2 linked regions of the Homo sapiens genome follow. The protein of the gene in region 1 purifies or fractionates together with the protein of each later gene. This does not show direct contact. Each region holds a gene or a part of one and is shown in the gene's direction. Other genes may lie near its edges. The genes, in order: CASP2 and PDS5B.

Region 1 (3,820 bases):
ACATTATTTTCTTATGATCAATGTGTTCCTGCTTAGTACATCTTTGCTTTAACCAGATTTAAGAAATATGCATAATCTTGGTTATTGTAAGTCTTATTCTTTTTGTTCTTCCTATTCATGCCTCTTCCACTCCACTCTTCTGTGTCAAATTGTGACTTGACAGCCTTTCCTTCTACCGTTTATCTGTAGGATATTGGGAGTGTGTGGCATGCATCCTCATCATCAGGAAACTCTAAAAAAGAACCGAGTGGTGCTAGCCAAACAGCTGTTGTTGAGCGAATTGTTAGAACATCTTCTGGAGAAGGACATCATCACCTTGGAAATGAGGGAGCTCATCCAGGTATCTGGAGGCAAAAGAGAGAAGATAAATTGATCATGGGGTGGGAATAGAGCATGACAAAATATGGAAAGGGTGTCGTATCTTTCTTCCTTTTTTTTTTTTTTTTTTTTGAGACAGAGTCTCTGTCTCCCAGGCTGGAGTACAATGGCGCGATCTTGGCTCACTGCAGCCTCTGCCTCCCAGGTTCAAGTGATTCTCCTGCCTCAGCCTCCCAAGTAGCTGGGACTACAGGCAGGTGCCACCATGCCTGGCTAATTTTTTGGATTTTTAGTAGAGACAGGGTTTCACTGTGTTAGCCAGGAGGGTGTCGATCTCCTGACCTCATGATCCACCTGCCTCGGCCTCCCAAAGTGCTGGGATTACAGGTGTGAGCCACCACACCCAGCTGGATGTTGTACCTTTCTAAAGAAATGGAAATGCCCTTCTACCGTAGAGCATTTGAGAGAAATGATATATAACTCAAGAATAACAGAAAGGACTTCACCCATACATACACTTTTCCTGTAAAAAGAATTCTTGGATGAGGACACTACTAGGAAGCTCATGTGGAGAAATAGAATTATAGCTAGAGAAGTAAATATGATTTCATGTTTTATTCTTGTGTCTTAGGCCAAAGTGGGCAGTTTCAGCCAGAATGTGGAACTCCTCAACTTGCTGCCTAAGAGGGGTCCCCAAGCTTTTGATGCCTTCTGTGAAGCACTGAGGGAGACCAAGCAAGGCCACCTGGAGGATATGTTGCTCACCACCCTTTCTGGGCTTCAGCATGTACTCCCACCGGTATGAAGCTTTAGTAATATGGGGTGTTGGGAAGGGTTAGTTTGACTGGAAAGGAATTTGTAAGTCAGAGTGAGGGAGACTAGATTTTGTTGTATTTGGACCGGACCACTTCCCTAAGGTCTGTCATCATGAGTTTTGATTTCTTACAGTTGAGCTGTGACTACGACTTGAGTCTCCCTTTTCCGGTGTGTGAGTCCTGTCCCCTTTACAAGAAGCTCCGCCTGTCGACAGGTGAGAATTGATGGACTAAAAGGGGTCCCAGGCCAGGTGCCACGGCTTACGCCTATAATCCCAGCACTTTGCGGGGCCAAGGCGGGTGGATCACCTGAGGTCAGGAGTTCGAGACCAGCCTGGCCAACATGGTGAAACCCCGTCTCTACTAAAAATATAAAAACTAGCTGGGCATGGTGGTGGGTGCCTGTAATCCCAGCTACTCGGGAAGCTGGGGCAGGAGAATTGCTAGAACCCAGGAGACGGAGGTTGCAGTGAGCCAACACGGTGCCACCGCACTCCAGCCTTGCCAACAGAGTGAGACTCAGTCTCAAAAAATAAAATAAAATAAAATAAAAAGGAGGGGGGTGTCCCAGATTGACTTCCCCTTTCTTGTCTGGTATCTGGCTTTGTCCTAACATGAGCCCTTTTTTTTGTTTTTTTTTTTTTTTGTTGTGTTTTTTTTCAGAAATAGGGTCTTGTTCTGTCACCCAGGCTGGAATGCAGTGACACCACCATAGCTCACTGCAGCGTTGAACTCCTGGGTTGAAGGGCTCCTCCTGCCTCAGCCTCCCAAGTACCTGGGATTACAGGTGCATGCCACCACACCTAGCTCATTTTTAAATTTTTTGTAGAGAAGGAGTCTCACTTTGTTACCCAGGCTGGTGTCAAACTTCTGGCCTCAAATGATCCTTCCGCCTTGGCCTCCCAAAGTGCTGGGATTATAGGCGTAAGCCACCATGCCCAGCTGAGACATAGTTTATATTGGGAACAGTTGTCAGTAAATTTGTTAAGGGCTAGTAGGACAGTTTATGCAGGAGTTTGTGGTTTTTTGTTTTTTTTTTTTCTTGTGATGGAGTCTTGCTCTGTCGTCCAGGCTGTAGTGCAATGGTGCAGTCTCGGCTCACTGCAAACTCTGCCTCCTGGGTTCAAGTGATTCTCCTGCCTCAGCCTCCTGAGTAGCTAGGATTACAGGTGCGTGCCACCATACCCAGCTAATTTTTTGTGTTTTTAGTAAGAGATGGGGTTTCACCATCTCCTGACCTCGTGATCTGCCTGCCTCGGCCTCCCAAAGTGTTGGGATTACAGGCATGAGTCACTGCGCCCGGCCCAGGCAAGGTGTTATTAATAGTTGGTCCATTTCCCTTCCACCCCAGATAACAGTTTTTGTGATAATTGGGCCTTTGAGTAGCATGTATGGGCAGGAAGTTCATGCTCAATTGGCCTCTAAAAAGCTGAATAAGAAAAGACTACATTTGGGGCCACCAGCCTGCTGATGGAGCATCCTAGTGATTGGAACGAGGCTTTTATCAGCTAGCCCATTCGGTCATTCAGCCAGTTGAGCATATGCTTCATGCAGGCTATGTGCAGAGAATCCTTTAGTGAGCTAAAACTAAGAGTCTCTGCCCTCATGAAGCTTACAGGTTTGGGTAGTGAGTGAGACCAATATTTATCACAACCCAGTTGCAAGAGATGTCTGAAGTTACAATGACATATTAAGATTGATGGTTAAGTTATATACTAGTTTTTTGGTTTTCTGTCTATACCACAGATACTGTGGAACACTCCCTAGACAATAAAGATGGTCCTGTCTGCCTTCAGGTGAAGCCTTGCACTCCTGAATTTTATCAAACACACTTCCAGCTGGTGAGTTTTTGCATAATGACAAGAGGAAGAGAGTTGGGAAATTAGACACCCTTCCTGGGAACCTGAACTTAGTTTGCATGTACATTTCCTTTCTGCCTTATTAGTCAGAAAGTTGTTACTGGTTAAATGCCTTCTGTGAGCATTTGTCTATTTTTACCTGCTGGAGGTTAAGAAGAAAAATACGATGTCTTTGTTTTCTTGAAATGTCTAATCTAGCCGAGGAATCATCTGTTATCAAGACGCTCATGGTCTAACTGGCCTCTCCTCCACAGGCATATAGGTTGCAGTCTCGGCCTCGTGGCCTAGCACTGGTGTTGAGCAATGTGCACTTCACTGGAGAGAAAGAACTGGAATTTCGCTCTGGAGGGGATGTGGACCACAGTACTCTAGTCACCCTCTTCAAGCTTTTGGGCTATGACGTCCATGTTCTATGTGACCAGACTGCACAGGTACCTGAGGTGGGAAAAATTGACATGTAAATTAGAGGACTGAACAACACTTTGGGACCAGAGACATCGTTTGTTCCTGTGCCTGCTGGGATATGTCTTAAAAGTTGGTTTATTCTACTTACATTTTTACTCACTCTGTTCTGCCTCTCACCTTGCATTCTAGTAAGAAAGAATTAGGGCCGGCCAGCCATTTTAGTGTTGACATCTCAGGTTGTGGTTTCATAAAGTAATAATAGTCCACAGTTGGTGTCTCACTTTTTTTTTTTTTTTTAAAGACAGAGTTTAGCTCTGTCACCCAGGCTGGAGTGCAATGGCACGATCTCGGCTCACTGCAACCTCTGCCTACCAGGTTCAAGCGATTCTCCTGCCTCAGCTTCCTGAGTAGCTGGAACTGCAG
Region 2 (3,820 bases), on another chromosome or scaffold:
TTTAGTGTCACCAGAGTATCACTGCTGTAATTTGCAGATCTGACAGTGTTTTTTCTCCTTAGTTATGTGAGTGGAAATAGAGTAGCATGTCTTCTATTAGTCAGAAATTTAACACTTTTTCTGAGAGTAATCCCACCCATACATAATTACATCATGGCTCGACTTTTCAGAGTTGCCAATGTACTGTCATTAAATACTCAATTATCTTAGAGATTTTCCTATTCCTGTGTATTCCACAGGAAGAGGAAAAGTTGCCTGGGTGTCTAGCCAGTACTTCATGCCATCTTCCATGTAATTTTTCTATCAGGTTAAAAGTAAAGGTAAGTACATTTTTGTGGCAGCTTTATAAATGTGTTTGGATTCAACCAAATCACTATTTCTAAACAAAGGATTCTTAAGGAATCCTTTATTTAATAAAATACACATGAATGATGTAACAAGGAAATAACAAACCTCATAATTTTAGTTTGTTTATATTTGGACATCATAAAATTCAGGGTTTAAATGATTATTGTGCTCTCCTAAAATTACACAAGTCCTATGAATGTTCTAAACCAAACAAGTATTTCTTAAAAAAAAAAAAAAATTGATATGGAAGAAGATTCTGTAGTCTGTCTTGGAAGCCTATCTTCCTTTCACTGGGAAGCTCTTTCTAGAGCTAGTATACTAACATATGTTAGGATTTGTTTCTTTTTCTTGTTCTGACCTCAGTGAAATTGAAAAAGATTGTCATTATGTTTCATGTTATTTCTATAGTTTCATTAATCTCGAAAAACCAAACCAAGTAAAAAAATTGTTTGGTTCGAGCGTGAGTTAAAAAAATACATATTTTGGATTGCTTATAGAAGTGATGTTATGTTTCTAATTTTAAAAAATAAAGATTTATCAAGAGGGATCCATTTGATTAGATGGTTCTATTACATATTTTTTGATGCCTCCTGTGTTTCAGAGAGTACTAGGTGCTAGGGACACAAAACAGACGTGGTACTTGTTTTCATGGGCTCGTGGTTCTTGTTTTCCACCATCTAATGGAGTGAGGAAGTTTTTTCTTTAAAAGTAACAATGAGTTGATATCTTGAGAATAGTAGGGGCTAGACAGGCAGAGAACAGGTGGCATGAACACTATATTTGAAGTTTCTGAAGTGAAAAATAACTTGGCAAAATCAGAAAGCTAAAGGAAGGCAAGGGTTTGTTGGATTGTAGTTGTGGGGAGTTGGGGAGCAGAAAGAGATGAGAGTGGACAGGTAGGCAAGGACCATCTACTGTTCCTTGTATACTTTGTTAAGGAGGTTTACAAAATTATTCTCAGCTCAGTAGGGAGCAGTAACATCATCTGTTCTTGTACTTTTAAAAGATAACTTTGTAAAGAGAAGAGGCAAGAGATGGGAATGGTTTGAATTAGGTGGTAGCAATGGAGATGTGGAGAGAAGTGAATGGATTTGAGATCTCCATAAGAATCTATAAGGCCAGACAAAGACAGGTACACTATATTCAAAGCAGAATTCCTTTCTGCTTTGAGCAGCTCAGTAGACATAGATGCCTTTTACTGTGTTAGGAAAGATGAAAGGAAGAGCAGACTTTAGGTTATGGTATGTTCTCAGTCACATTTTTTTGTTGTTACTTGGTAGATAATATGTAACATTCTATGATTAAATGCTGGTTTAGGATTCAGAATATTAAAGAAATGTTCTTGTCTCATAAAGTAACTGAGGGTAAAGATGATATGACGATGAAATACGTGAAACATTTCTTCTAACGAGGTAATCTACTGAAAGATTGGAACGTTCATTGTGTTTTACATGTGTTTTACTCTAGCCGTGTAGGACGCTCCAAACAAGCAGCTACTAAGGAAAATGATTCAAGTGAAGAAGTAGATGTGTTTCAGGGTAGCTCTCCTGTCGATGATATTCCACAGGAAGAAACAGAGGAGGAGGAAGTTTCTACAGTAAATGTATGTGTTCAAAGTTTCTGTGAGTGGTGTGGGATATAAAAAGAGTTAGTAAATGTTTGGTTAGATCATTTAGTACTTGTTTAGTATTTATATGTTTTACTTCATTAGTTCATAGCATCATTTTATCTACCAGGTTGGATAATGGAGAACATCTTTTATGGAAACCCGAAACTAAGCAAATAGGTGTAGCTTAATGAGAATGTAAATGTCAAGTCTGAACTGAATGTACAGCATTCTAATATTGACACTTTAAGCATGTAAGTTGTACCTTGATTTTAGGGCACTGATACCCATTAAGTATACTGTTGTTTATATTTTACAACTCTCCGTTTGGTATTTCTATTTGGGTTTCATAATAGAAATTAGAAGTTAGTTACACAGAATAAAATCAGCCTTTGGAATTGAAGTTTGAGCTGAATGAGAATTCATAAAATTGGTAATACATACTTATTTTGCAAAAGTAGGTATGTGTTACTTCCTGACTTTTTTGTTTTTGAGACAGAGTCTCACTCTGTCACCCAGGCTGGAGTATAGTGGCGCACGATCTGGGCTCAGTGCAACCTCTGCCTCCCAGATTCAAGCAATTCTCCTGCCTCAGCTTCCCAAGTAGCTGAGATTACAGGCCAATGCCACTGTGCCCGACTAGTTTTTGTATTTTTAGTGCAGACAGGGTTTTACCATGTTGGTCAGGCTGGTCTCGAACTCTTGACCTCAAGTGATCTGCCTGCTTTGGCCTCCAAAGTGGTGGGATTACAGGCATCAGCCACTGCACCCGGCCCTTCTTGACTTTTAAAGTAATAAATAAATAACTTTACCAGTTAATACAACTCAGATATTTCTCTTAGGAAAAAACATAATACATTTAAGTAGAAGCTCTTCTCCTATCTTTGTTTGAGAAACCCAAGCTCTATAATCAAGTCTCAGAATTGGTCTCTGCTGTTCTGTCCTGTTTAATGGAATCAGAACTCCTATCTGTACCAGGATTCATATTTGTGAATAAGCGAGTTAAGTACACAGGAAAATATGCATAATTGTGACCTCAAATTAGTTTGGCTTGTTTCTTAAAGGGTTTTGGGGAGGACATCAAAGTAAGTCTGAAGAGTCAGTAACGATTGATGTCTTCATCAGAGAAAAACTACATGTAAATTAAAACCCTCTTTTATATTCCTATTGTTAATATTGACATTTTTTGAACTAAAGTTTTATGCTTTCATTAGTGCTTGTCAGCAAATGATAATATGTTTGAATTTTAGGTTATTTTACTGTATTGATAATTGTTAAGATCCAAACTCAGTAACTGCTTTCCCAGAAAGATAATGTAAGTTCATAAATGTGAAATGTTTTCATTTACCACAGGAAACATAAGTAGAAAGATGATTAATCTGTTTGAGTTATTTTTCTTGCTGTAGACATTGACTTCTGTTCATTTCTCTTTAAAATTATTAGATAGAAAAGTAAAATAATTTTTTTCTTTCACTGTTCTGGGGAAGTCTGTGAGCCTGTAAGGGATCAAATGTTATAGAGGTCTAAATATGTGATGCCAGGGCAGAAAGTAAGGATAAAAAGTTTCAGGGAAAGGAAAGCAAAGAAAATCAGGAACAAATGAGAATAAAGATTAGTTAAAAATGATTACTGCATATCTTATGCACATATACCCATTTTAATTAAGCATCTGGTGACTTTCCTTTTAAGGTACGGCGGCGAAGTGCTAAAAGGGAACGGCGATGAACAAATGTAATTAATAACTTTCTCTGTGAAAGCTTTGGAAAAATCTTTTTTTTTTTTTTTGGTCAAGCTTGAGGCTGAATAAAGCCTTTGATGCACAAAATGGGACTGCTGAAGAGTGGACAGTTGGACCTTACTTTGGTG

The links.
Region 2: the proteins of CASP2 (region 1) and PDS5B purify together in Homo sapiens (affinity purification with mass spectrometry, with the first as the bait; one large-scale study listed by BioGRID). This does not show direct contact.

Annotation. Positions count from the first base shown.
Region 1 is NC_000007.14:143,291,351-143,295,170, forward strand, and holds part of CASP2 (caspase-2 isoform 1 preproprotein), read left to right. Parts: intron 1-189; coding exon 190-340; intron 341-949; coding exon 950-1,117; intron 1,118-1,266; coding exon 1,267-1,348; intron 1,349-2,879; coding exon 2,880-2,974; intron 2,975-3,246; coding exon 3,247-3,423; intron 3,424-3,820. UniProt on the Homo sapiens protein: Is a regulator of the cascade of caspases responsible for apoptosis execution. Might function by either activating some proteins required for cell death or inactivating proteins necessary for cell survival.
Region 2 is NC_000013.11:32,771,374-32,775,193, forward strand, and holds part of PDS5B (sister chromatid cohesion protein PDS5 homolog B), read left to right. Parts: intron 1-1,815; coding exon 1,816-1,951; intron 1,952-3,643; coding exon 3,644-3,679; 3' UTR 3,680-3,820. UniProt on the Homo sapiens protein: Regulator of sister chromatid cohesion in mitosis which may stabilize cohesin complex association with chromatin. May couple sister chromatid cohesion during mitosis to DNA replication.